Linked DNA regions of Homo sapiens. The protein of the gene in region 1 interacts with the protein of each later gene in a pairwise test. Each region holds a gene or a part of one and is shown in the gene's direction. Other genes may lie near its edges.

Region 1 (2,585 bases):
CATGCCACTGCATTCCAGCCTGAACGACAGAGCGAGACTCCATCTCAAAAACAAACAAGACTTTGCCATACCCTTGCGTAACACATAGCTACTTGAAGCACCTAGGACTGGCCTGGAAGTCAGATCTACACCAGTGGTTTCTCCTTCTAGAGGGCCCTGTTGCTAGGGACTGGATTTACCCTCACAAGCAGGAACTGGGCTTTAATTAAATAGTGGAGTAGAGAGCATCTTTCTGAGCCCCGTGGTCCTTGGTTACTAAGGAGGAGTCTTCCTTAGGAACCAACTTCCAGGATGGGAGGACTTTAGGTATAATCCTCTGGGGAGGTCTCAGGATAGTCCCCTTTCCTAAGAGACAGCTCTTCTCTCAGTCAGGTCCTACTGGGGAGGAGGCTATTCTCTGGCCTCAGTTCAAGGCCAGCAGGTCAGAGGCTGGCCACAGTCATTGAAACCACTTAGACCTCACTTTTGTTTGCCAAGGATGGATGAGGTTGCCTTGGCAACCAGGTCAGAAGGCCCCAGCTCTGCGAGGATTTTATGGGACACCAAACCCCATCACCAGGGCACCAAGCTTTCCTTAGCAACCAGGATCTGGAAAGGCAATGTGCAGGGCAGGGCAGTGCTCTTCATTGGGAGAAGCCCTCAGACCATGAAGGCCTTGTTGCTAGGGAACAAGCATCCTTAGCAAGCAAGAGCTAACTGCATGCAGGCCTTTATCATGTGGGGAGGGCTGGGGTCCGCTTTGCAGAGTGGAGACTTGAAGCGAGTTGCTTGAGGGTGGGGGGTCTATCTCATGCCTTTACTGTTGCTAGGGGCCCAATCTCCTTAGCAACCAGGGCCCTAGAAAGGCAGACCCTTGGGTACCTATCCCAGCAGAGACCTGGTGTGGTTTAGGCCCCGCTGCTGGGGCTCCCTTCCTCTCTCGCTGGGACCTGGGTCCCTCTGGACCTCAGTGCTCTCCCCCTCTTCTCCTGCAGGATGAGAAATACTGGAGCCGGCGGTACAAGAACAACGAGGCAGCCAAGCGGTCCCGTGACGCCCGGCGGCTCAAGGAGAACCAGATATCGGTGCGGGCGGCCTTCCTGGAGAAGGAGAACGCCCTGCTGCGGCAGGAAGTTGTGGCCGTGCGCCAGGAGCTGTCCCACTACCGCGCCGTGCTGTCCCGATACCAGGCCCAGCACGGGGCCCTGTGAGGCTGCCCCACATCCCCACCTGGCGGAGCTCTCCTCCGCCTTGCTGAGACTTACGCCCTGTTCCCTTCCTGCCCTGTGGCCCACGGGCCGGCCAGCTGGGTGCCCCAGGGACGTGATAATGCAGATAAATACATTTATATTTTTAAGAAAAAGCGAGCCTCCCCCCTCCCTTGCGGGGGCGGGGAGGGTTCTCTGTGTGTGTCCCCGGCACGTCAGGGACCCTATCCTCCCACCGCCTCCGTTAACACGATCCTGAATAAATCTTGAGAACCCCAGAGCCAGCTGTTGTGGAAGAAGAGGGCAGCTCCCTGGCATACTGGCTGCAGCCCGTGGGCAGCTCCGGGCTGTCGTCCATAGAGGGCAGGCGCTGCTGGAAGTGCTGGAGTCTGAGTCCTCCCGCGGGCTGTCGGATGGAGGAAGGGCAGAAGGTCTGAGAGGAATGAAGCGACTGCCTTTATTGCATAGACCTTTTCAATTGCTTTTTAGATTGGGGACGGAGGACGCGCATGAGACGAACAGGGGATATGAATTTCCCCGCCCCCACCCGCGGGGAGAGGAACATTAGTGCAAATCCTAGCGCCGGCCCCGGGGAACCTGCCCCTCCTGGGCTGATTGGCCAGCTAAATGGAGGCACCGGAGTGGATGGGGCGAGGCTGCGGGCCCTGACCGGCCGACTCACTGAGGCCTACCCCAGCCAGTACATTCCAGGTCCTGTCATTGGGCGACGCGTAAAATAGACTCCGCCCTCAGCCATCCTGGCCGGGTAGGAGCAGGTGGCAAGCGTCAGGACTGAGCCCTGCCCCGTAAGGGCGGCCCCAGATCAGACGCCAGGCCCCGCCCTCATTGATCAGGCACTACCCTCGGGACGAGCCCATTTCTCTTTAACCGTGACGACGCCCACCTTCCAGCATCACGTCTGGTCCCATGAAAGCGAGCGCAATCCTGAGACGGGGCCAGGGCCCCTGCCACCACAACTCTAGCAGCCAGGCCACACCCCCTAGCTCAGGCTCCGCCCCATTGGAATGTAGGCCCCGCCCCCGGCGGGTACCAAGCTTGTTTAGTTTCAGGGCTCCCGCCCCGGGCAGCCAGGAGGCCCAGTGAGCAGTGTACCGATGCCAGGGTGCATCTGTGCCTGTAGCGGCCCATACTCCACCTGCTCCCCGTCCACTGTGAGCACGCCGCGTGGTGTGAGCGGCTCTAGGCGGAAGGCACGGGCCGCGGCGTAGCCCAGCTGCGGACAGCCCAGGCTGAAGTGGCTACCACGCTCCATGGCCAAGAAAAGGCGCAGCAGCGCAGCCCGCGAGATGCCGCTACGCACCCAGCACAGGTGCACCAGGCCGTCGTCGAAGCGCGCATGCGGAGCTGCCACCAGGTCAGCGCCTAGGTGGCTGGGCG
Region 2 (3,660 bases), on another chromosome or scaffold:
GTGTAATCAGTCAAGTATCCAGTCAGAAGCCAGAAGCATACCAGAAATTTGAACAGGAATAATATAAAAAATTATTAACTGGTAACACGGATTAACTCCTAAAAGAAGTAAAGAGAACCTAAAGAATATAGGAATAAAGCTGGGTGTGGTGGCTCATGCCTGTATTCTTAGCACTTTGGAAGGCCGAAGTAGGAGGACTTCTTGAGCCAATGAGTTCAAGACCAGCATGGGCAACATAGCAAGACCCTATTTTTACAAGAAAATACATTTTTATGTTAGCCAGGTGTGGTGGTGCATGCCTGTAGTCCCAGCCACTGGGGAGGCTGAGATGGGAGGAGCTCTTGAACCCAGAAAGTTAAGGCTGTAGAGAGCCATGATCGCACCACTGCTTTCCAGCCTGGGTGACAGAGTGAGATCCTGTCTCAAAAAAAAAAAAAAAAAAAAAAAAAAGAATATAGAAATAGCAGATGCAGAGAGCAACCACTAGCTGTAAGGTAGATGGAGAGTACCCAAGGAAGGAACATACTTAGAAGACTCCCCACAAGCTCCTAACCTCCTCTTCCCCCATGCCAGGCTAAGATGCAGATCTTCTTGGGGCAAATGTGGCTATAGCAACTGGATAATAGAGAAGTTCACTGACATGCCACAGATTAGAGGTAGAGAGCTGGAAGCCATCAGCTGGGGTACTGGTAAAGCTTGCAGGGAAGCTGCCCACTAGGATGTCATTGAGACTTGCTGGAAAGCCACCTGCCGGGGCAGGTGTATGTAAAAGTGAGAAATGTCCTTCCCATCCAAAGCTTTTTAACTCTATCTTCAATAGTTTGTATTTGGGATACTAAATTACATTTCAGGGCACACAACTTTGATTTCAGAAATTAACAATAACCAGACCATATCATATGTTAAACGTGGTTGAGAAAATATTAAAAGCTTCCCGTTGGCACCCTGACATAAGAGCAAGAAGCACCAGAACCAGGAGTTGAGCACTTTCTTGGCAGTGTCCCTCCAGCACCACCTACTGATGTGGATAACTTTGTGCCTGCTGGCAAAGGAGAAATATTTTGAAGGTCCAGGTCCAATATTACAAAGCAGAGCAAAGATGGGTGGATTAGAAACTAAGGGACATAACTAGTGAAGGATGTTATCATCCTTCACTCATGTTATACTGCTTACTTTTCATGTTGTGCAATTATAAGGAGTAAGTAATTCTAAAATATATTACACTTTTTCCGTACATGGTACTTCAGTTTCAGTTTTCAGCTCAATTAGGAGCCATGCAACATCTGAAAGACCAATTGGAACAACGGACACGCATGATAGAAGCAAATATTCATCGGCAACAAGAAGAACTAAGAAAAATTCAAGAACAACTTCAGATGGTCCATGGTCAGGGGCTGCAGGTAATTGTTATATTTGAATACAAACAAAGCATCCCATTCACATTTTGGATTTCTAGGAAAATTAACTTTTCTTAATTAAAAGTGAGATGCAAGAGATACGTTTTATCAATTCAGTTCAATAAATATTCACTGGTTACCTACTCAGTATGATTATACTTACAGTCTCTAAAGATAATTTGTTTCTGAGGGTATTTCTGTCAACATCCTTGTTTCTCCAGTCATCTTTTTTTACCAGTCCAAATTTTAGTAAGTTTGAATCCATAATATAAAAATTATATTTTACATAAAGTTTTAGGTACATCTTGGGTACAGAATTTATAAATCAATCATCAGTAATATTTTTATTAAGATACCAGTATGTATGATTCAAATTAGTCTTATATGACCAACCAGCAGGACCACTCTAGGAGACTATGACTTTGGTAAAGGGAAACTTGGAGTGAAAACTACTTCTGTGTGATGTTATAAATTATAAATGATAAGTGATACAGAGCTGTCAATCCACAGACTAACACTAGTTACACTTTTTCTAACAATTGGAAACAAGATAACTGAAAGATTGAATATAAAGTTTCATATTTTATTCACTACTTATTTATTGCTAATTCTTCAAAGTGACTTAGCCTTGTTACTTGCTTTTTAAACATACTTTGTAGCTTGATTTTGCCTTCTTTTTAATGCTCATTCTTCTTTTCAATCTACAAAGCTCATTTTAACATAATCTTTATTTTTAAAGATGTTTTTGCAACAATCAAATCCTGGGTTGAATTTTGGTTCCGTTCAACTTTCTTCTGGAAATTCATCTAATATCCAGCAACTTGCACCTATAAATATGCAAGGCCAAGTTGTTCCTACTAACCAGATTCAAAGTGGAATGAATACTGGACACATTGGCACAACTCAGCACATGATACAACAACAGACTTTACAGAGTACATCAACTCAGGTAATGTTACTGAGCACAGCGGGCTATGGAGTGATCAGTGGTTGGAAGGCACACTATTGCTGAAGCAGAAATAAAGCTCTAATGATAAAATATCATTTCAAAATTTAATAGTATTTAGAAAGTATAGTATTGAGAGTGATTATTAAAATATTTTGTGCAAATCATGTTAGTATCAAATATTTTCAGCTTTTTTTTTTCTTTTTTTTTTTTTGAGACGGAGTTTTGCTCCTGTTGCCCAGGCTGGAGTGCAATGGCGTGACCTTAGATTACTGCAACCTCCGCCTCCTGGGTTGAAGCGATTCTCCTGCCCCAACCTCCCGAGTAGCTGGGATTATAGGCACCCACCACCATGCCAGGCTGATTTTCATATTTTTAGTAGAGATGGGGTTTCACCATGTTGGCCTGGCTGATCTCAAACTCCTGACCTCAGGTGATCGCCCACCTCAGCCTCCCAAAGTGCTGGGATTACAGGTGTGAGCCACTGCGCCTGGCTGAGCTTTAAAATATGTCACAATCTGTTTAAAGATGTAGTCTAGTAGTTATACCAAGTTCTTGTAACTTAGACTATTTCTGTGTTTAAAAGGTATGACTTGCTCAAGAGGCTGACCAGGAAGCCTGTTCCCATATGTGCAGAATAGACTGTTGGGGGAGGGGGCATAATGGTTTATTGAATATTCCAGAAAATGTTGGTAATTACTGTAGATCTGTGACTGTAAATCCCAAGGATTTAAATGAAAAATAGAAAAATGCCCACTAATTAGTCATTCACTTTGGGCATTTAACAGAAATTCTTTGAGTATATTTTATATCATCTCTATTACAATCACACTCCTTTCTAAAGTCATAGCTTGCCTTCCAGCAAGATATTCAAGACTAATTCATTCTCAGTTACCACGAGTCATTCCTTTGTGGTTATATTTCCCCCAGAGTAATATATCCTGCCACTTCTTTCTCTGTCATATTGTCATATTGTTAGAATGATGAATTCTAGCATACTTCCCAAATAATTATTTTCAGTTAATCTGTCTATAAAATCTCTTTATTTTTAACAGAGTCAACAAAATGTACTGAGTGGGCACAGTCAGCAAACATCTCTACCCAGTCAGACACAGAGCACTCTTACAGCCCCACTGTATAACACTATGGTGATTTCTCAGCCTGCAGCCGGAAGCATGGTCCAGATTCCATCTAGTATGCCACAAAACAGCACCCAGAGTGCTGCAGTAACTACATTCACTCAGGACAGGCAGATAAGGTAGTTGTCATATTTCATTTGTTATTTTTAAAATTGTAAACCGATTGATTAGAAAACAA
Region 3 (2,951 bases), on another chromosome or scaffold:
AGGCCGTGGGACAGACACCACTGAAGGAGCAGAGTGAAATTAGGGCTGCTCTATTGGTATCCCCCAGTCACAAAGAAGTAGACACTTTTCCAAATGTTCGATTTAGGCCTTTAAGTTATGGTACCAACCCTTCTTTCAGGCATGGCAAGCCGGCTGCTCGGGCCCTCATTTGAGTCCTACCTGCTGCCCGAACTGACCAGATATGACTGTGAGGTGAACGTGCCCGTGCTGGGAAGCTCCACGCTCCTGCAAGGAGGGGACCTCCTCAGAGCCCTGGACCAGGCCACCTGAGCCAGGCCTTCTACCTGGGCAGCACCTCTGCCGACGCCGTCCCACCAGCTTCACTCTCTCCGTCTGTTTTTGCAACTAGGTATTTCTAACGCCAGCACACTATTTACAAGATGGACTTACCTGGCAGACTTGCCCAGGTCACCAAGCAGTGGCCTTTTTCTGAGATGCTCACTTTATTATCCCTATTTTTAAAGTACACAATTGTTTTACCTGTTCTGAAATGTTCTTAAATTTTGTAGGATTTTTTTCCTCCCCACCTTCAATGACTTCTAATTTATATTATCCATAGGTTTCTCTCCCTCCTTCTCCTTCTCACACACAACTGTCCATACTAACAAGTTTGGTGCATGTCTGTTCTTCTGTAGGGAGAAGCTTTAGCTTCATTTTACTAAAAAGATTCCTCGTTATTGTTGTTGCCAAAGAGAAACAAAAATGATTTTGCTTTCCAAGCTTGGTTTGTGGCGTCTCCCTCGCAGAGCCCTTCTCGTTTCTTTTTTAAACTAATCACCATATTGTAAATTTCAGGGTTTTTTTTTTTTTGTTTAAGCTGACTCTTTGCTCTAATTTTGGAAAAAAAGAAATGTGAAGGGTCAACTCCAACGTATGTGGTTATCTGTGAAAGTTGCACAGCGTGGCTTTTCCTAAACTGGTGTTTTTCCCCCGCATTTGGTGGATTTTTTATTATTATTCAAAAACATAACTGAGTTTTTTAAAAGAGGAGAAAATTTATATCTGGGTTAAGTGTTTATCATATATATGGGTACTTTGTAATATCTAAAAACTTAGAAACGGAAATGGAATCCTGCTCACAAAATCACTTTAAGATCTTTTCGAAGCTGTTAATTTTTCTTAGTGTTGTGGACACTGCAGACTTGTCCAGTGCTCCCACGGCCTGTACGGACACTGTGGAAGGCCTCCCTCTGTCGGCTTTTTGCCATCTGTGATATGCCATAGGTGTGACAATCCGAGCAGTGGAGTCATTCAGCGGGAGCACTGCGCGCTATCCCCTCACATTCTCTATGTACTATGTATGTATGTATTATTATTATTGCTGCCAAGAGGGTCTGATGGCACGTTGTGGGGTCGGGGGGTGGGGCGGGGAAGTGCTCTAACTTTTCTTAAGGTTTTGTTGCTAGCCCTTCAAGTGCACTGAGCTATGTGACTCGGATGGTCTTTCACACGGCACATTTGGACATTTCCAGAACTACCATGAGATGGTTTAGACGGGAATTCATGCAAATGAGGGGTCAAAAATGGTATAGTGACCCCGTCCACGTCCTCCAAGCTCACGACCTTGGAGCCCCGTGGAGCTGGACTGAGGAGGAGGCTGCACAGCGGGAGAGCAGCTGGTCCAGACCAGCCCTGCAGCCCCCACTCAGCCGGCAGCCAGATGGCCCCGCAAGGCCTCCAGGGATGGCCCCTAGCCACAGGCCCTGGCTGAGGTCTCTGGGTCGGTCAGTGACATGTAGGTAGGAAGCACTGAAAATAGTGTTCCCAGAGCACTTTGCAACTCCCTGGGTAAGAGGGACGACACCTCTGGTTTTTCAATACCAATTACATGGAACTTTTCTGTAATGGGTACAATGAAGAAGTTTCTAAAAACACACACAAAGCACATTGGGCCAACTATTTAGTAAGCCCGGATAGACTTATTGCCAAAAACAAAAAATAGCTTTCAAAAGAAATTTAAGTTCTATGAGAAATTCCTTAGTCATGGTGTTGCGTAAATCATATTTTAGCTGCACGGCATTACCCCACACAGGGTGGCAGAACTTGAAGGGTTACTGACGTGTAAATGCTGGTATTTGATTTCCTGTGTGTGTTGCCCTGGCATTAAGGGCATTTTACCCTTGCAGTTTTACTAAAACACTGAAAAATATTCCAAGCTTCATATTAACCCTACCTGTCAACGTAACGATTTCATGAACGTTATTATATTGTCGAATTCCTACTGACAACATTATAACTGTATGGGAGCTTAACTTTATAAGGAAATGTATTTTGACACTGGTATCTTATTAAAGTATTCTGATCCTACCACTGCTGGTGGCTCTTATTTCCTGTGGATTTATCATGGGCTATGCCAATGTAAAGTGAAGTATTAAGTCGTTCATATAAATTGAACATTAGCACAGACCTTTATGAGACTACTGAAGTGAGCTGATAAGACTGGTGAAGGAAAGACTGTGTTAAATACTTGGTAGTTGCCTAAGTCTGAAAATTCATATTGTATCTTCCATATTTCTGCAAGTATTTTTCTATCTATCTATCTATGTGCCTCGGGGCCATTTTTTGTATCCTATGGGGAACCCAAGGAAAGAAGTCATGGTCTCTGCTTTCAGAAAATTACATGAAGTCGTTTGAGAGCCACACTGTTCTGTATATTCACATAGTGCACTTTGGGATGGAGGTCCCGAAGGGAAAGGGGCAGCCTGGGCATTAGGACTTCAATTTGGAGGCGGCTGGGCTGGAGTAGGGTCTTCCCAGGTAGACTGTGATTGGGAAGAGCAGAGATCCCCTCGGCCAGAGACAGAGCACAGTGAAAGCCCAGAACTGGACATGAGCATGATATGTTCCCCAATTCAAATTTCACTTTTCCAGATCATGACCTGCTTGTGAGCAGACCTTTGTCTCCATGGAGAGATGGGGGCAAGGGGAGA

The links.
Region 2: the proteins of DBP (region 1) and CLOCK interact in a two-hybrid assay, tested with the Homo sapiens proteins (one study listed by BioGRID).
Region 3: the proteins of DBP (region 1) and EPAS1 come close enough for resonance energy transfer, tested with the Homo sapiens proteins (one large-scale study listed by BioGRID).

What each region holds. Positions count from the first base shown.
Region 1 is NC_000019.10:48,629,442-48,632,026, reverse strand, and holds the end of DBP (D site-binding protein), read left to right. Parts: intron 1-974; coding exon 975-1,190; 3' UTR 1,191-1,997; downstream 1,998-2,585. Other genes in the region: SPHK2 (sphingosine kinase 2), read right to left, coding at 2,254-2,585. UniProt on the Homo sapiens protein: This transcriptional activator recognizes and binds to the sequence 5'-RTTAYGTAAY-3' found in the promoter of genes such as albumin, CYP2A4 and CYP2A5. It is not essential for circadian rhythm generation, but modulates important clock output genes.
Region 2 is NC_000004.12:55,442,373-55,446,032, reverse strand, and holds part of CLOCK (circadian locomoter output cycles protein kaput), read left to right. Parts: intron 1-1,247; coding exon 1,248-1,400; intron 1,401-2,136; coding exon 2,137-2,346; intron 2,347-3,398; coding exon 3,399-3,601; intron 3,602-3,660. UniProt on the Homo sapiens protein: Transcriptional activator which forms a core component of the circadian clock.
Region 3 is NC_000002.12:46,384,370-46,387,320, forward strand, and holds the end of EPAS1 (endothelial PAS domain-containing protein 1), read left to right. Parts: intron 1-139; coding exon 140-291; 3' UTR 292-2,328; downstream 2,329-2,951.